Linked DNA regions of Homo sapiens. The gene in region 3 interacts genetically with the main gene of each other region. Each region holds a gene or a part of one and is shown on either strand. Other genes may lie near its edges.

The links. A genetic interaction does not mean that the proteins touch.
Region 1: changes in NOLC1 (region 3) and GNL3L together harm fitness more than expected from each alone (negative genetic interaction), as found in Homo sapiens cells (one large-scale study listed by BioGRID).
Region 2: changes in NOLC1 (region 3) and ZNHIT6 together harm fitness more than expected from each alone (negative genetic interaction), as found in Homo sapiens cells (one large-scale study listed by BioGRID).
Region 4: changes in NOLC1 (region 3) and TCOF1 together harm fitness more than expected from each alone (negative genetic interaction), as found in Homo sapiens cells (one large-scale study listed by BioGRID).

Annotation. Positions count from the first base shown.
Region 1 is NC_000023.11:54,540,219-54,543,718, reverse strand, and holds part of GNL3L (guanine nucleotide-binding protein-like 3-like protein), read right to left. Parts: coding exon 3,477-3,500; intron 2,447-3,476; coding exon 2,330-2,446; intron 765-2,329; coding exon 681-764; intron 513-680; coding exon 377-512; intron 1-376.
Region 2 is NC_000001.11:85,705,634-85,709,679, reverse strand, and holds the start of ZNHIT6 (box C/D snoRNA protein 1), read left to right. Parts: upstream 1-1,246; 5' UTR 1,247-1,395; coding exon 1,396-2,051; intron 2,052-3,172; coding exon 3,173-3,238; intron 3,239-3,324; coding exon 3,325-3,431; intron 3,432-3,516; coding exon 3,517-3,602; intron 3,603-4,046. UniProt on the Homo sapiens protein: Required for box C/D snoRNAs accumulation involved in snoRNA processing, snoRNA transport to the nucleolus and ribosome biogenesis.
Region 3 is NC_000010.11:102,158,889-102,162,388, reverse strand, and holds part of NOLC1 (nucleolar and coiled-body phosphoprotein 1), read right to left. Parts: intron 3,197-3,500; coding exon 3,081-3,196; coding exon of another isoform or gene 3,051-3,080; intron 2,957-3,050; coding exon 2,821-2,956; intron 2,494-2,820; coding exon 2,365-2,493; intron 2,157-2,364; coding exon 2,046-2,156; intron 1,938-2,045; coding exon 1,296-1,937; intron 834-1,295; coding exon 727-833; intron 557-726; coding exon 464-556; intron 279-463; coding exon 120-278; 3' UTR 1-119. UniProt on the Homo sapiens protein: Nucleolar protein that acts as a regulator of RNA polymerase I by connecting RNA polymerase I with enzymes responsible for ribosomal processing and modification.
Region 4 is NC_000005.10:150,374,697-150,378,196, forward strand, and holds part of TCOF1 (treacle protein), read left to right. Parts: coding exon 1-115; intron 116-257; coding exon 258-467; intron 468-642; coding exon 643-858; intron 859-1,024; coding exon 1,025-1,213; intron 1,214-1,385; coding exon 1,386-1,634; intron 1,635-1,726; coding exon 1,727-1,924; intron 1,925-3,500.

The DNA.
Region 1 (3,500 bases), on a different chromosome or scaffold from region 3:
TGACTTATCCAGTGTCTCAGAGAAAAGAATCAGGACAGGTGGGAGGCTGAACCCTAGACATGAGTGACTCCTGAGCCCATGTGCTCCTCTGCCCCAGTCTTTGAGTTGAGGGAGGAGGAACTCTCCAGGGTTGTCCAAAAACAGAGAAGGCTCAAAATGGCAAGAACAGGGGACTGAAAGGCAGACAGGCTTGGATTCCACACCTAACTTGTACCATACTCTGTGATACAGGCTTTGAAAATCGGAACAAAAATTTCTACTTTGCATGACTATTATGAGTATCACTGAGTTGCTGGGTTCAGTGTCTGGTCCAAGCTAGACGTTAAAGATGGCCTGCCCACCTTCCCTGTCACACCCAATCCTGCCTAACACCCACCAATCTTGTTCAAGACCAGGACCAGCTTCTTGTTGCCTTGTGCTCGCAGGACAGCCTCCTCCATTTGGAAGCAGCGGCAGCCTAATGGGTCTCTGGCATCCAGGACTTCCAGAATCACATCAGAGTATTCCACCACCTGCAGGGCAGAGGACCAGGAGATGAGGGCAGGAAAAGGATAGGGTAGCAGTGATGCAGGCCTGTGAAACAAAAATCTCCATCTCAGTCAGGAAAAAACAGAAATGGAGAGGAAAAGGGGCTGGACTGGAACCCTCCCGCAAAAGCCTGAAGAAATGGAACCCTGTACCTTACGGAACTCCTTGTAATAAGCCTTCCTCGTGGCCTCGTCATCCAGCTGAGGAAACATATTTAATTCCTGCAAAACTTCCTCCTAAAGGAGAAAAAAAAAGAGAATGGTCCAGGGGAGGAGGGGGAGAGAGCGAGAAAGAGAAGCAGGGCTTTTTAAACTATAGGAGGCTTAAAAAATCATGTGAGTCCTGGCCATCAGAGAAATGCAAATCAAAACCACAATGAAATACCATCTCAAACCAGTTAGAATGGCGATCATTAAAAAGTCAGGAAACAACAGGTGCTGGAGAGGATGTGAAGAAATAGGAACACTTTTACACTGTTGGTGGGACTGGAAACTAGTTCAACCATTGTGGAAGACAGTGTGGCGATTCCTCAAGGATCTAGAACTAGAAATATCATTTGACCCAGCCACCCCATTACTGGGTATATACCCAAAGGATTATAAATCATGTTACTATAAAGACACATGCACACGTATGTTTATTGCGGCACTATTCACAATAGCAAAGACTTGGAACCAACCCAAATGTCCAACAATGATAGACTGGATTAAGAAAATGTGGCACATATACACAATGGAATACTATGCAGCCATAAAAAATGATGAGTTCATGTCCTTTGTAGGGACATGGATGAAGCTGGAAACCATCATTCTCAGCAAACTATTTCAAGGACAAAAAAACCAAACACCCCATGTTCTCACTCATAGGTGGGAATTGAACAATGAGAACACTTGGACACAGGAAGGGGAACATCACACACCGGGGACTGTTGTAGGGTGGGGGGAGGGCGGAGGGATAGCATTAGGAGATATACCTAATGTAAATGACAAGTTAATGGGTGCAGCACACCAACATGGCACATGGATACATATGTAACAAACCTGCACGTTGTGCACGTGTACCCTAGAACTTAAAGTAAAATAATAATTTAAAAAATAAATCATGTGAGTCTCAGGCCACCAAAAAGTAGCTTTGACCAACCAATAAAGCTGGGAACTGGAAGAAAAATGGACAGAACCCCATGGTTCATGTGTGCGCCTATGTGTATACGTGTGCTCGAGCACCAGGTGGAGACCTGAGTGTGCACATGGGTGTGAAAGGGAGGGATGGAGGAGGGAGGTGTGAAAAAAACAATCTATGAGGGACACAGGATGGGGGAGGCATACACACTGCATATCAGAAAAGGGAGTATGAGCTGGCAAGCGTGTATTCTGTGTGTGAAACAAGAACATCTGCCAAAAAGGCAGCAAGAAGCCCTAGAAGGAAGACAACATCCCCTCACATATGCTCCTCTCTGTCTCTCAATCCTCTCCTCATACTTTCGCTCCCTCTCCCCCAACCCCATCCCCTGGTCACATGTAACTCTCCCAGCCCCCAACTCCGCCACCAGCCCCAGTCTTCAGGCTCAACCTTGGGAGAGAGGAGCTCTCCAGAGGTGTCCAGTCACGGGTAAGGCTCAAAATGGCCCTTTATCTCCCTTTATCCCTCCCTCCCTCCCTTCGTCCGTCCCCATGGTTTTCTATCCTCTCTACACTGATTCCCTTGTTCCCCTCCAACAACTTCACACCTTCTTCCCTTTCACAGAAAAACGGCAAAAGATGCTTTGAGCAAACCTACCCAGGGGCAAGGGCTGCACTCTTACCTTATGCTCAAACTCCTCCTGGCGTCTTAGGACATCCTGACAGTAGCTCTCAATGGTCCTGCGTTTTTGTCTTTCTTGCTCCCGGGCGGCTTGCTGCTTCTCCCTCATCTCCTCAACCTAACAAGTGAACACACACTGGTACTGGAGCTGACTGGGTCTGCAGCCTAAGGGAGGGATGGGTGACAGACAGAGGAAATGGTGCGACATGGCAGAGGTGGCAGGAGCAGGGTCCAGGGAGAGGGAAGATATGACATCAGGAGATGAGGGTTTGAGAAGAAGAAAAAGAGAGATGAAGGGAAGGAAAGAGTTGCAGAGAAAAGAGGGTATAAAAAGCAGAGAGAGAATGTATCCTAGGCAGGCGGAACCACTTAAGACCAGAGATGGAAAGAAGCCAAGGTCCTGGGATGCTTCATCATTTAAAGATAAGGAAGAAGGCTGGGCAGGGTGGCTCACGCCTGTAATCTCAACACTTTGGGAGGCCAAGGCAGGTGGATCACCTGAGGTCAGGAGTTCAAGACCAGCCTGACCAACATGGTGAAACTCCATCTCTACTAAAAATACAAAATTAGCTGGGCGTGGTGGTGCATGCCTGTAATCCCAGCTACTCAGGAGGCTGAGGCAGGAGAATCGCTTGAACCCGGGAGGTAGAGGTTGCAGTGAATCGAGATCACACCACTGCACTCCAGCCGGGACAACAAGGTGAAATTCCATCTCAAAAAAAAAGATAAGAAAGGGGAAAAAGTGGCAAAAGAGACTGTCAGTGGCTAGTCAAAGAAGAAAGACATCCAGGAGAGTGAGATGACAAGAAAGTCCACATGCTTCAAAGAAAGCATAGCCTCAAATGCTGAGCATTCCAATAAGATGAGGGAAGAATACTATTCATGAATGTGATGTCAGGGAAGGCGCTGATGAGGCCAGCAGGGGCAGTGTCAGCAGAGCAGTGGAAGCATAAGCCAGACAGCAATGGACTGGGTGGTGAACAAACGCAGACATAAATCCAGTATCATGGTAACCTCCCTCTCTCCCGGCTTCCACAAATAGCCTCAACAACCCTAACAACTCTTGCCTTTGCCCTTCCATTCAACACTTCTGCGGACCTGGCATTCAAGGCAGGCCCTCTCTCTCCCCACCAAGGCAAAAAGCTTACCCACTTCTTCTTTAATTCAGCCTC
Region 2 (4,046 bases), on a different chromosome or scaffold from region 3:
TAACATAAATTTATATGGCCCAGCAATTCCACTCCTAGTTATTTACTTAACGGGAAATGTAAACATGTCCACACAAAGACTTGCATATGAATGTGGAAGCAGAATTATTCGTAATAGCCCAAACTGGAAACAAGCCAAATGCCCACCAACTGGTACATGCATGAAAAAACGTGCCACATTCATACAATGCAATGTTATTCAGCAATACCGGGCATTAGGCACTTTCGCCTAATATATTTATGATGTTCTCTGAGAGAATCCTGCAGAATGCTGGGAATGGGGAATAGCCTGACGCAGGCTGTTACTTAGAAAGAATGGAAAGAAAAATTAATGCCCTCTTTCCTACTTGAAACCCATCATGATTCCCAGTTATACACTGAGTTTGTGTCTGTCACTGACAGTTGATTCCTATGCATGATCTCATATTATCTTCGCAATGACACTGGGAGATTTATATTAATAATACCATGCTCCCTAGTTTATAGCTTCAAGAAACTAAAGCTTGCAAAGGTGTAACATCAGGTGTGTCCTTTTTCATACAAGATTGGATTTAATGGTTAACACAGATAAGGGTGGGTTTTCCCATTTCCAGAGTGTAAGGGTTTCGCTTCTCTCCCTCTGCCGGTCTCCTCCACTGTTTACACCCAGTAGGGCGTGGAGGGTGGCCTAGGGTGTGGCCCAGGAGGCTTCCCTAAGGGAAGGGGGTGGTGGAAACCAGGCGGTTTGAAGCCCATCAGGATTCCCAGTTATATATCGAGTTTGTGTCCGTCACTGCTAGTTGATTTCCATGCATGATCTCATATAATCTTTGCAATGACACTGGGAGATTTATATTAATAATACCATGGTCCCTAGTTTATAGCTTTAAGAAACTAAAGCTTGGAAAGGCCTAATAACATCAGGTGTGTCCTCCATTTTCATGCAAGATTGGATTTAATGGTTAACACAGATTAGGGTGGGTTTTCCCACTTCCAGAGTGTAAGGGTTTCGCTTCTCTCCCTCTGCCGGTCTCCTACACTCTTTACACCCAGCAGGGCGTGGAGGGTGGCCCAGGGAGTGGCCCAGGAGGCTTCTCTAAGGGAAGAGGGTGGTGGAAACCAGGAAGGAGACGAGAACCCCAGCGGGCAAGTCACGCAGTTACGCTTGTTCGCCCAGAGAATCCGGCAGGGCCTCCGCAGAGCCGTAAAGAGCTCTACAAGTCGTGAAGGGGCGAGGCGCAAAAGCGTAGCTTTACGGCGATTCGAGCAGTCGCGTCAAGCAGGCTATTCCGGGTTTGTGGCTGCTTGGCTCCACACGTGGGCCGCCGTAGGTATTCCGACCGGTAATTCCTCCTATTGGTGTGCAGCAGCCACATTGAAGGATAGAGTGGCAGCAGAGGCCAAGGATCGTGAGTTGATGGAGTTTGCTGCTGAAAATGAAGGGAAGTCTGGGGGAGGTCTCCACAGCGTAGCTGAGGGGGTGCGGCTAAGTCCAGAGCCTGGCAGGGAGGGAGTAAGGGACTTAGCAGGGGCGGAGGAGTTCGGCGGCGGAGAGGAGGGGACAGGGCTGACAGGGATAAAGGAGATAGGGGATGGAGAGGAAGGAAGTGGACAAAGGCCAGAGGAAATACCGATGGACCTAACGGTAGTGAAGCAGGAAATTATAGACTGGCCAGGTACAGAAGGCAGGTTGGCTGGCCAGTGGGTAGAACAGGAGGTGGAGGATAGGCCTGAGGTGAAGGATGAGAACGCAGGCGTATTGGAGGTGAAGCAGGAGACGGATAGTAGTTTAGTGGTAAAAGAAGCGAAGGTGGGTGAACCAGAGGTAAAGGAAGAGAAGGTAAAGGAAGAGGTAATGGACTGGTCAGAAGTGAAGGAAGAGAAGGATAACTTGGAGATAAAACAGGAGGAGAAGTTTGTTGGTCAATGCATAAAAGAGGAATTGATGCATGGAGAGTGTGTAAAAGAAGAGAAGGATTTCCTGAAGAAAGAAATCGTGGATGATACAAAGGTGAAAGAAGAGCCTCCGATAAATCACCCGGTGGGCTGCAAGCGGAAACTGGCCATGTCAAGGTAGGGCATGGGGGATTCCATTTAGGGGAATAAAGCTGTGGAGTCCTCATGTCTAGAGTGAAGGAAACCACACTATCAGGAGAAGGTGGAATAATGAAAAATGAGCACAAGTTTGGGTTTCTGGAGTCAGACGGCGTTCGCGGGGGTGGGTTGGGAAGTGGAGGGTGTTGTACATGACAACACAACAAATTCAGTGAAAATACATGAAATTAGTAGTGTCCAATGGGTAATGGTCAAGTTAGGAAAGTGGAAATTCTGGGGACCAAAAGATCAGTTGGAACTGGATCTGGCTTGACTTAATATGCTCTTTACTCGGTATTCCTTTGAGAGAGAATAGAGATGAGAAAGTCTAATAAAACTAACAATGACAAAGTAGATTAAGTTAAAACTAGGCAAAAATACACTTGACCTCAATTATCAAGCTTCTTCATGGGTGCTGTGAATATTTATTGCTTTTGATTGAATTTCCTTAGTGTGTGGATCATGTGACAAAGGAAATAAGAGTAGTCAGATTCTTGAGAATATTCCCGTCTAGAACACAGTGGGCTAAATAGAAGTAACTGTAGTTTGGTTGTCAGTATCCCAGGAGCATAGAAGAGCAGTTGAGGACAGATGATGGGTTACATGGCATTTCTAGATTATTTCGATGCTCATTCTAGATTAGGCGTGGAGTTCAGGAAAAAGGGTGCTACTACTACTCTCTAAATTTCACTTGGCCTTATATTCTTTGTCTGGTGTGTGCTTTAAAAATATCTAAACATAGCTCATGAATTGGACTTCTGGATACACACACATACAATCATTACCACATTTCCAGGAATCACAAGTTAAAATATCAGTGAATAATCTCATTCCCTGATTATAGTAGAAAAAGAAGTCAAAAGCGAGATGGGTTTTAAAAATTTTAATACATTTTCCTGAGTTACATATCACTAACAACATTGGAAATGTAGTTGTTTTGGGAAGGTTTCATAGAGAAGAATTTTCAAATGATGTTCAACAGCTATCAAATATTTTATCAGTTACTTGTCACTGAGTTTATAAATTGATTGGGAATTCTAAGTTTATAAATAAATACAATTAATATTTGATAATTTAATGTTACATGTGGGCTTTTGTAGGTGTGAGACTTGTGGTACAGAAGAAGCAAAGTACAGATGTCCACGTTGTATGCGATATTCCTGCAGGTATACATGTAACTTCCTACCTTTTAACCTGTATCTGTACCTTTCTTACCCTAAAATATAAAAGTACTTCCCCTTTGTCTTTTCAGTTTGCCCTGTGTAAAGAAACACAAAGCAGAACTGACATGTAATGGAGTTCGAGATAAAACTGCATACATTTCAATACAACAGTTTACTGAAATGAATCTCCTAAGTGGTAAGCCACTTTATGCATAGCAAATTGAGGCTTCCTGGCCATTGGTATATGTCACTTGTTTATTCTTCTGTTTTGAAATTTTTAGATTATCGATTTTTGGAAGATGTGGCAAGAACAGCGGACCATATTTCTAGAGATGCTTTTTTGAAGAGACCAATAAGCAATAAATATGTAAGATTTTTTCCTAATTTCTTCCAGTTAGAAGTCCTTCAAATCAATTAGATTCTTTTTTTTTTTTTAACTTACCAAATATATTAAGTGGCTACCATGATGTAGAGCTATTCTGATTACTTAAGGATATGGCTGTGACCCAAACAAAGTCCGTCCCCTCGTGGAGTTGTATTTAGTGGGAGATATAGGAGATAAGTAGAGGAACAAATGTAATTTCAGATAGAGTTAAGTTCATATAGAAAATAAAGAAGGCTCAAGAGATTAAAGAGAGAATGAAAATGGTCTTTGTTGGGGAGAGATTGTCAGGGTACTATTTTCGATACAGTGGTCAGGAGAAGCTTCTCAAAGAGATGATGTGTAAGCAGTGATCTGAGTGCTGAGAAAGAGGCTGTCATGTGAACATTTGGAGGCAGATTATCCCAGGTAGGGACAAAAGTAAAAGGA
Region 3 (3,500 bases):
TACTCTAAACTTCTGTCCTCATCAAGACCCTCACCTAGAGACCTGAGGGTTCCCAGGTCCACTGGAGAAAGTAAGTAGTCTCCGATCATCACCCTTGCTTCACCGAAGATGGCCTCAGGTCACTCGCTGTCAAACTTAATAGAATTGACCTGGACAGAGATTGAGCCTCCCCGGTAGCTGCCCCGCTTCTTCTTGGTTTTCTCATGCCGAAAGGACTTGCCTTTGGTGAACTTCAAAACCTGATTGGCTCGCTCTCCCCAGTCTCCGGCTGCACCTCGCTGGTAAGTAGAGAGGGAGATTAACACAGAGGAGGACCATGCTGGAGCCCTGTCACTTTATTCTTTCTACTCCCTGCTCAAGGAAACCTGAACCCAGAGAAGATTCCCACCAACCTGAACCAAGAATTGTCCTCTCTGACACTACCCATCCTCCCTCCCAAGAATGGCACAGATCTCTCTCTCACCTTGGCATCAAAGGAGTTGTCCGCAACTCGTGAATCCACCTCAATTTCCTCCTCCCTGACCCTTCGGAATGGGGATGATGCCCTTTTTTCTCCCTACAGAAGAATGAAGTAGGAAATTAAAGACAGAGTGGTCATGTAACAGTTCTCCTGAGTGATACACATGGGCACATGTACCAGGTCACGCCAGGCAGAGCTGTCAAGATGATCCTAGATTTTTCTACTTTTAAAGAGCTGGCTCCTGAGAAGAAAGTGAGACAACTTACTTTCTTCCTTTTTGGAAATGTGTTAGGGGTCTGAAGCTTTATCTTCTTGGCCTGAGGAGTCTCTGCCTCCTTGGCAGCCTCATTCTGCTTCCGCTTCTTTAATGAACCTACAAAACAAAAAGCCAGACTCAGGCCGAGTACAGTGGCTCACAACTGTAACCCCAGCATTTTGGGAGTCCAAGGTAGGAGGATCGCTTGAGCCCAGGAAATTCAGATCAGCCTGGGCAATATAGTGAGATTCTGTCTCTATAAAAAGTTAAAAAAATGAGCCAGACATGGTGGTGCATGCTTGTAGTCCCGGCTACTCAGGAGGCTGGGGTGGAAAGATCACCTGAGTCCATGAGGTTAAGGCTGCACAAGCCGTGATCATGCCATTGCACCCTGGTCTGGGTGACACAGTGAGACTCTAATAAAAAAAAAAAAAGGTAACCAGTTTCCTGTTCTTCCTCCCAGTTTCCACAACTGGAAGCCCAGTGGTGGGCCTCCTCTCACTACCCTACTCTCAAAGAGTATATCCCATCCTGATTTGGGGGGACAAAACCCAGAGGGCATGTTCATTGGGTACAGACCTGATTTGGAAACTACCACTGCCGCCTTTTTCTTTTCTTCTTCCTCCTCCTCACTGTTCTTAGCTGCTTTTCCATTCTGGGCAGTCAGTGCAGAGGTGCCATTGGCCTTGGGGGCTTGTGGTCTTGGAGAGCCCTTGCCCTTGAGCTTCTCTTCCTCTTCCTCACTGGAGTCATCAGAAGAAGAACTGTTGCTGCTCTCAGCCTTTCCTTTCTTTGCAGAGGCTGGCTTGGAAGGGGCTGCACCTCCTGCTACCTTCTGTGGCTTCTTCTTAACTGCAGACTTAGATGTCTTCTCTTCCTCCTCCTCACTGCTGGAGCTGTCTGAATCAGAGCTGCTGTCCCTACTACCCTGAGGAGCCTGCTTGGCAGGCAGAGATAGAGCTGCTTTGGCAGTCGCCTTGGGCTTAGTGGTGGCCACCATCTTCTTTGTCTTCTCCTCCTCACTGGAGCTGCTCTCTTCCTCACTGGAGCTGCTGTCAGCCTTTCTCGTCAGAAGCTTCTGGCCACCGCCCACAGGTTGCTTGGGGGCTGCAGCTGGCTTCACTGCAGGTGACTTGGTGGTGACAGCTGGCTTATTTGAAGAATTCTTGGTGGTACCAGCTGGCTTAGAAGGAGCTTCATCATCCTCAGAGCTGTCAGAGTCTAGACACAGAAGGGATGGAATCAACAGCTCCCCAAATTGGATTCAGGGGAGCCCTTAGCAGCTGCCTGAGAGCATCTCACTGAACTGAGGGCCTCCATATGCCTTACCTGAGCTGTCTGAAGAGCTCTCTGCTGCTTTCTTTGCTGGAGGTGGTTTAGTGGTTGCTTTAGAGACTACTGCCTTAGTTGGGGGTTTCTTCTCTTCTTCAGAACTTGAATCTGAGGAGAACCTGTAGCATTATGCTGGGTCCAGAGTCCCAACCCAACCAGGACAGCAATAAAAAGAATGCAAAGACACGCACAGAGCCTTAGCTCTGTCTTGCTTTAAGCAAAAAGCAACCGAAGGATGGAAGGCTTTCTCTCTCCCTTATTCCTCATCCCCTCCTCCAGACCCACGCTGAGGGGAGGCTGCATCCCTCTGACTCACCAGACTCATCACTGCTGTCTTCACTGCTTTCCACAGGCTGCTGCTTCTCCACAGCCTTCTTGGGAGGCTGGGTTCCCAGAGACTTCTTTGGTGGGGGAGCAGAAGGCGGGGGGACTGAACTGTAGGGACCTGTTTAAAAAGGATAGTGTGATGGTTTTAGGATATGTCTACAACTTTTTTTGATACTACTTTCTTGTAGAAATGAAGCTTAATTCCCCTTCACTTGAGTATGGGCCAGAATCAATGACTCAGTTCTAACAGAACATGGTGTCACCTCTGAGTCTAGGTTACACAAGGCACTGGAGATTTCTCCTTGCTTTCCTGGATCACTAGTGCTCGGAGAAGCTAGCTGTCATGTCATGAGGACGCTCATGCACCTCTATGGAGAGGTCCATGTGGTTACTGCAGCTGGGCCCTGACCACAGTCACACAGCTTCGCTCCCCATGTCCAGTCACCTGGTTTATTTTTCATGGGTTTTTTTTGCTCCTCTTCCTCGTCACTGGAGGAATCCTCACTGCTAGAACTCTTCCGGGTAGGGGTGGTAGCTGCTTTCACTGGGGCCTTGGCCACAACTTGCTTTTTAGGTACAGTCTGCATTAGAAAGAAAATTGATTACCACAGGAAAATGCTGACCCAACCAATCCTGCCAGGGAAGGAAGACACACACACATCACACCCTGGTCACCTCTGCCCTGACAGAAGTTATGGTCCAGACCTTCTTGGGGGTGGCTGCTGCCTTCTCCTCCTCTGAGTCATCACTGCTACTGCTGCTGCTGCTGCTACTGCTGCTACTGGCTGCTTTACCATTGGCTATTTTAGGTGCTGCTCGAGCTGGAATACCCAAGAAAAAGAAAGAGTAAGGAGTATTAGGGCAAGTCAGGACCATGAAAAACCTCCTTCCTATGAGCAGAGAACTTAGGAGTCCACCATTTTTTTTTTTTTTTTTTTTTTTTTTTTTGGAGACGGAGTCTGGCTCTGGCTCTGTTGCACAGGCTAGTGTGCAGTGGTTCAGGCAACTCTCCCGCCTCAGCCTCTGGAGTAGCTGGGATTACAGGTGCCCACCACCATGCCCAGCTAATTTTTATATTTTTAGTAGACACAGGGTTTCGCCATGTTGGCCAGGCTGGTCTTGAAC
Region 4 (3,500 bases), on a different chromosome or scaffold from region 3:
AGCGCCCCCTGGGAAGACAGGGCCTGCAGTTGCCAAGGCCCAGGCGGGGAAGCGGGAGGAGGACTCGCAGAGCAGCAGCGAGGAATCGGACAGTGAGGAGGAGGCGCCTGCTCAGGTGAGGCAGAGGGGAGGGGTGGAGAGTAGCCCCATGCCTAAACCCCAGCACCTGCATGGGTGTGGCCACCTTTGCCACATCCAGCTCCTGTCTCCACACGTCCACCCTCTGGGCTCTCCCCTCATCCTGTTTCTCACTCCAGGCGAAGCCTTCAGGGAAGGCCCCCCAGGTCAGAGCCGCCTCGGCCCCTGCCAAGGAGTCCCCCAGGAAAGGGGCTGCCCCAGCACCTCCTAGGAAAACAGGGCCTGCAGCCGCCCAGGTCCAGGTGGGGAAGCAGGAGGAGGACTCAAGAAGCAGCAGCGAGGAGTCAGACAGTGACAGAGAGGCACTGGCAGCCATGAATGCAGCTCAGGTGAGGCTGGAAGCCGCCCTGCATGGCCTGTGCCCTGCCTCAAAAGACCTCCTGTGGTTTTGACTTTTCCTCTCTGAACCTAGAGCCCTGTGCGGCTGGCTTCGTTTGCTCTCCTCCCCTCACTCACATTCTCCTTCTGGACTCCCTCCCTAATCTTGTCCTTTGTGTCTCCCAGGTGAAGCCCTTGGGGAAAAGCCCCCAGGTGAAACCTGCCTCTACCATGGGCATGGGGCCCTTGGGGAAAGGCGCCGGCCCAGTGCCACCCGGGAAGGTGGGGCCTGCAACCCCCTCAGCCCAGGTGGGGAAGTGGGAGGAGGACTCAGAGAGCAGTAGTGAGGAGTCATCAGACAGCAGTGATGGAGAGGTGCCCACAGCTGTGGCCCCGGCTCAGGTGAGGCCCCTTCCTGTAAGGCTCTTTCTTTTTCCCCCCCACTCAGAGTGGAGCTGCCTGTGGCCTCCCAACCTCACACTGGGACTCTGTCTACAATCTTAGTTTCTTAATGTCTGCACACACCTACCCTGGGCTCCCTCTCCCGATCCTGTGTATCTCACTCCAGGAAAAGTCCTTGGGGAACATCCTCCAGGCCAAACCCACCTCCAGTCCTGCCAAGGGGCCCCCTCAGAAGGCAGGGCCTGTAGCCGTCCAGGTCAAGGCTGAAAAGCCCATGGACAACTCGGAGAGCAGCGAGGAGTCATCGGACAGTGCGGACAGTGAGGAGGCACCAGCAGCCATGACTGCAGCTCAGGTGAGGCCTGGGGAAGGAGGCTGCTACATGGCCTGATCTGCCACACCACAGTCAGCACCCCCGGGGAGCTGTGCTCCCTCAGGCAGAGCATGGGTTTTGGCTGGTGGGGCAGAACAGATGGGGGACTCTGAGTTCAGGAACCTTCTCCAGCCTTTCTTTGGTGTCCCCTCAGGCAAAACCAGCTCTGAAAATTCCTCAGACCAAGGCCTGCCCAAAGAAAACCAATACCACTGCATCTGCCAAGGTCGCCCCTGTGCGAGTGGGCACCCAAGCCCCCCGGAAAGCAGGAACTGCGACTTCTCCAGCAGGCTCATCCCCAGCTGTGGCTGGGGGCACCCAGAGACCAGCAGAGGATTCTTCAAGCAGTGAGGAATCAGATAGTGAGGAAGAGAAGACAGGTCTTGCAGTAACCGTGGGACAGGTGAGGCCTGTGTTTTCTGGGCGGGCCTCAGGGCCGCCCCTACGTGGTCCTTTGGACTCCTGGAGACACCTCTCTTCCCCTTGTCATCCCAGGCAAAGTCTGTGGGGAAAGGCCTCCAGGTGAAAGCAGCCTCAGTGCCTGTCAAGGGGTCCTTGGGGCAAGGGACTGCTCCAGTACTCCCTGGGAAGACGGGGCCTACAGTCACCCAGGTGAAAGCTGAAAAGCAGGAAGACTCTGAGAGCAGTGAGGAGGAATCAGACAGTGAGGAAGCAGCTGCATCTCCAGCACAGGTGAGGCCTAGAAGGAGCAGGCCCATCCCACCCACACCTGTTCCTGAGCCAGGGCTGAGGATGGGCTTGACTGGGGGCTAGTGTTGCCTGCAGGTGTGCAGAAGCCTCAGAGGTAGCCTCAACACAGCTTCCTTCCCTATCTTTCACTCCATGTCTCCTCTGCCCATCAGAGCTCCAGGGTCTCTGTCTTGTTTGCCTTTTGAGGTCCTCCTGCTGATTGATTCCCTGTGGTTTTCACAAGCTCTGGAGTTCCCACCCTGCCAGGTGCTGCCCTTGTCTGGGGTTGCTGAGGCGCTGTTCCTCAGGGAAGTCCTGTCTCTGTGGAGCATGGACATGCTCCTGCAGTGTGGAGCGATGGGGTTGAGATAGAGGGTGTGAGCCTGGGCTGCGCAGCATGACAGGTGAGAGCATCTAGGCCTTTTACAGGAGGTGGCAGCATCTGAGCCATGGGCTGAAAGAGTTGGCCAGGTGAAATGGGCAGGGAGAGTGTTCCAGGCAGAGGAAGCAGTCTGTGCGAGGCCAGGGAATGAGAGAGTGCCTGGCTTGGGTGCCTTGCCACAGGCGGCACATTGTGGTGGGATGGCTGGCAGTTGTTTAGAGCCAGACCGCCTGGGTTCAAGTTTCAGCTCCACAGCCTGGCAAGTGCTGTAAGCCCTCAGAGCCCTTACTCTCCTATAAACAGGAAATCAGCCCTCACAGGTTTGGGTGAGAATTTAGGTGAGATCTCACCTGCTACACCCAGCAAGGGAGCTGCACACAGCAAGTTGTCTCTGTCACCCTGACGATGGGCCAGGCTAATGTGGAACAGATCAGGAGTGAGGTCTCCAAGCCTGGAAGAGCTGAGAGAAGATGGCTCACTCCCTGCACTCACCCACCCACTGTTTATTATTTTTAATTGTCGCTCTGTTTTTTTCTGTAACCACTCAGAAATTAGTCATTTCTTTTTTCTCTGTACCAGAGCACACATTTCTACTGATTTTTTTTTGTCCTCCTCTCGTTGACTTGTGGGACCTCAGGGCTCTAGAATTCCTCCATTGAGGTTTTTAAGCTCTGCAGGGGCCCCTTCCAGAGCCGCCTCTACTCTTTCCCAAGCTGCAGGCACATTCCAGACCCAATGCCTTACAGAGTTTCATTATGCAGCTCACTTAAATATTTGTCTTCCCTTCTGAGCCTCCCACCTGTACCATGAGGTGGGTGTTTTATTTTTATTTTTTGAACCATGGGCTATTTTGAAGTAAGCCGTTTAATTTCCAAATATCTGGGATTACCCAGGTTTCTTTTTGTTGATTTCTAATTTAGTCACATTGTGGTTGGAGAACATATTTTGTATGATTTAAATCCTTTTTTGTGTATTGAGACTTGTTAGGTCAAGTCAGTCTTGTGTCTTGTTTCTTGTGGAAAACATGGCTCCCCTCTGGAGGATTTACGTGCTCTACTGATGAGCACCTCGGCCTGAGTCATACTTGGTCCACACTGTAGGGAATCTTCTTGAAGTCCTGATTCTTCACCTCATTTGACCTCATGTGTTTGAGGAATGCTGGGGGATGGGGTTGTTTTCTGACACTGACCAGATGCC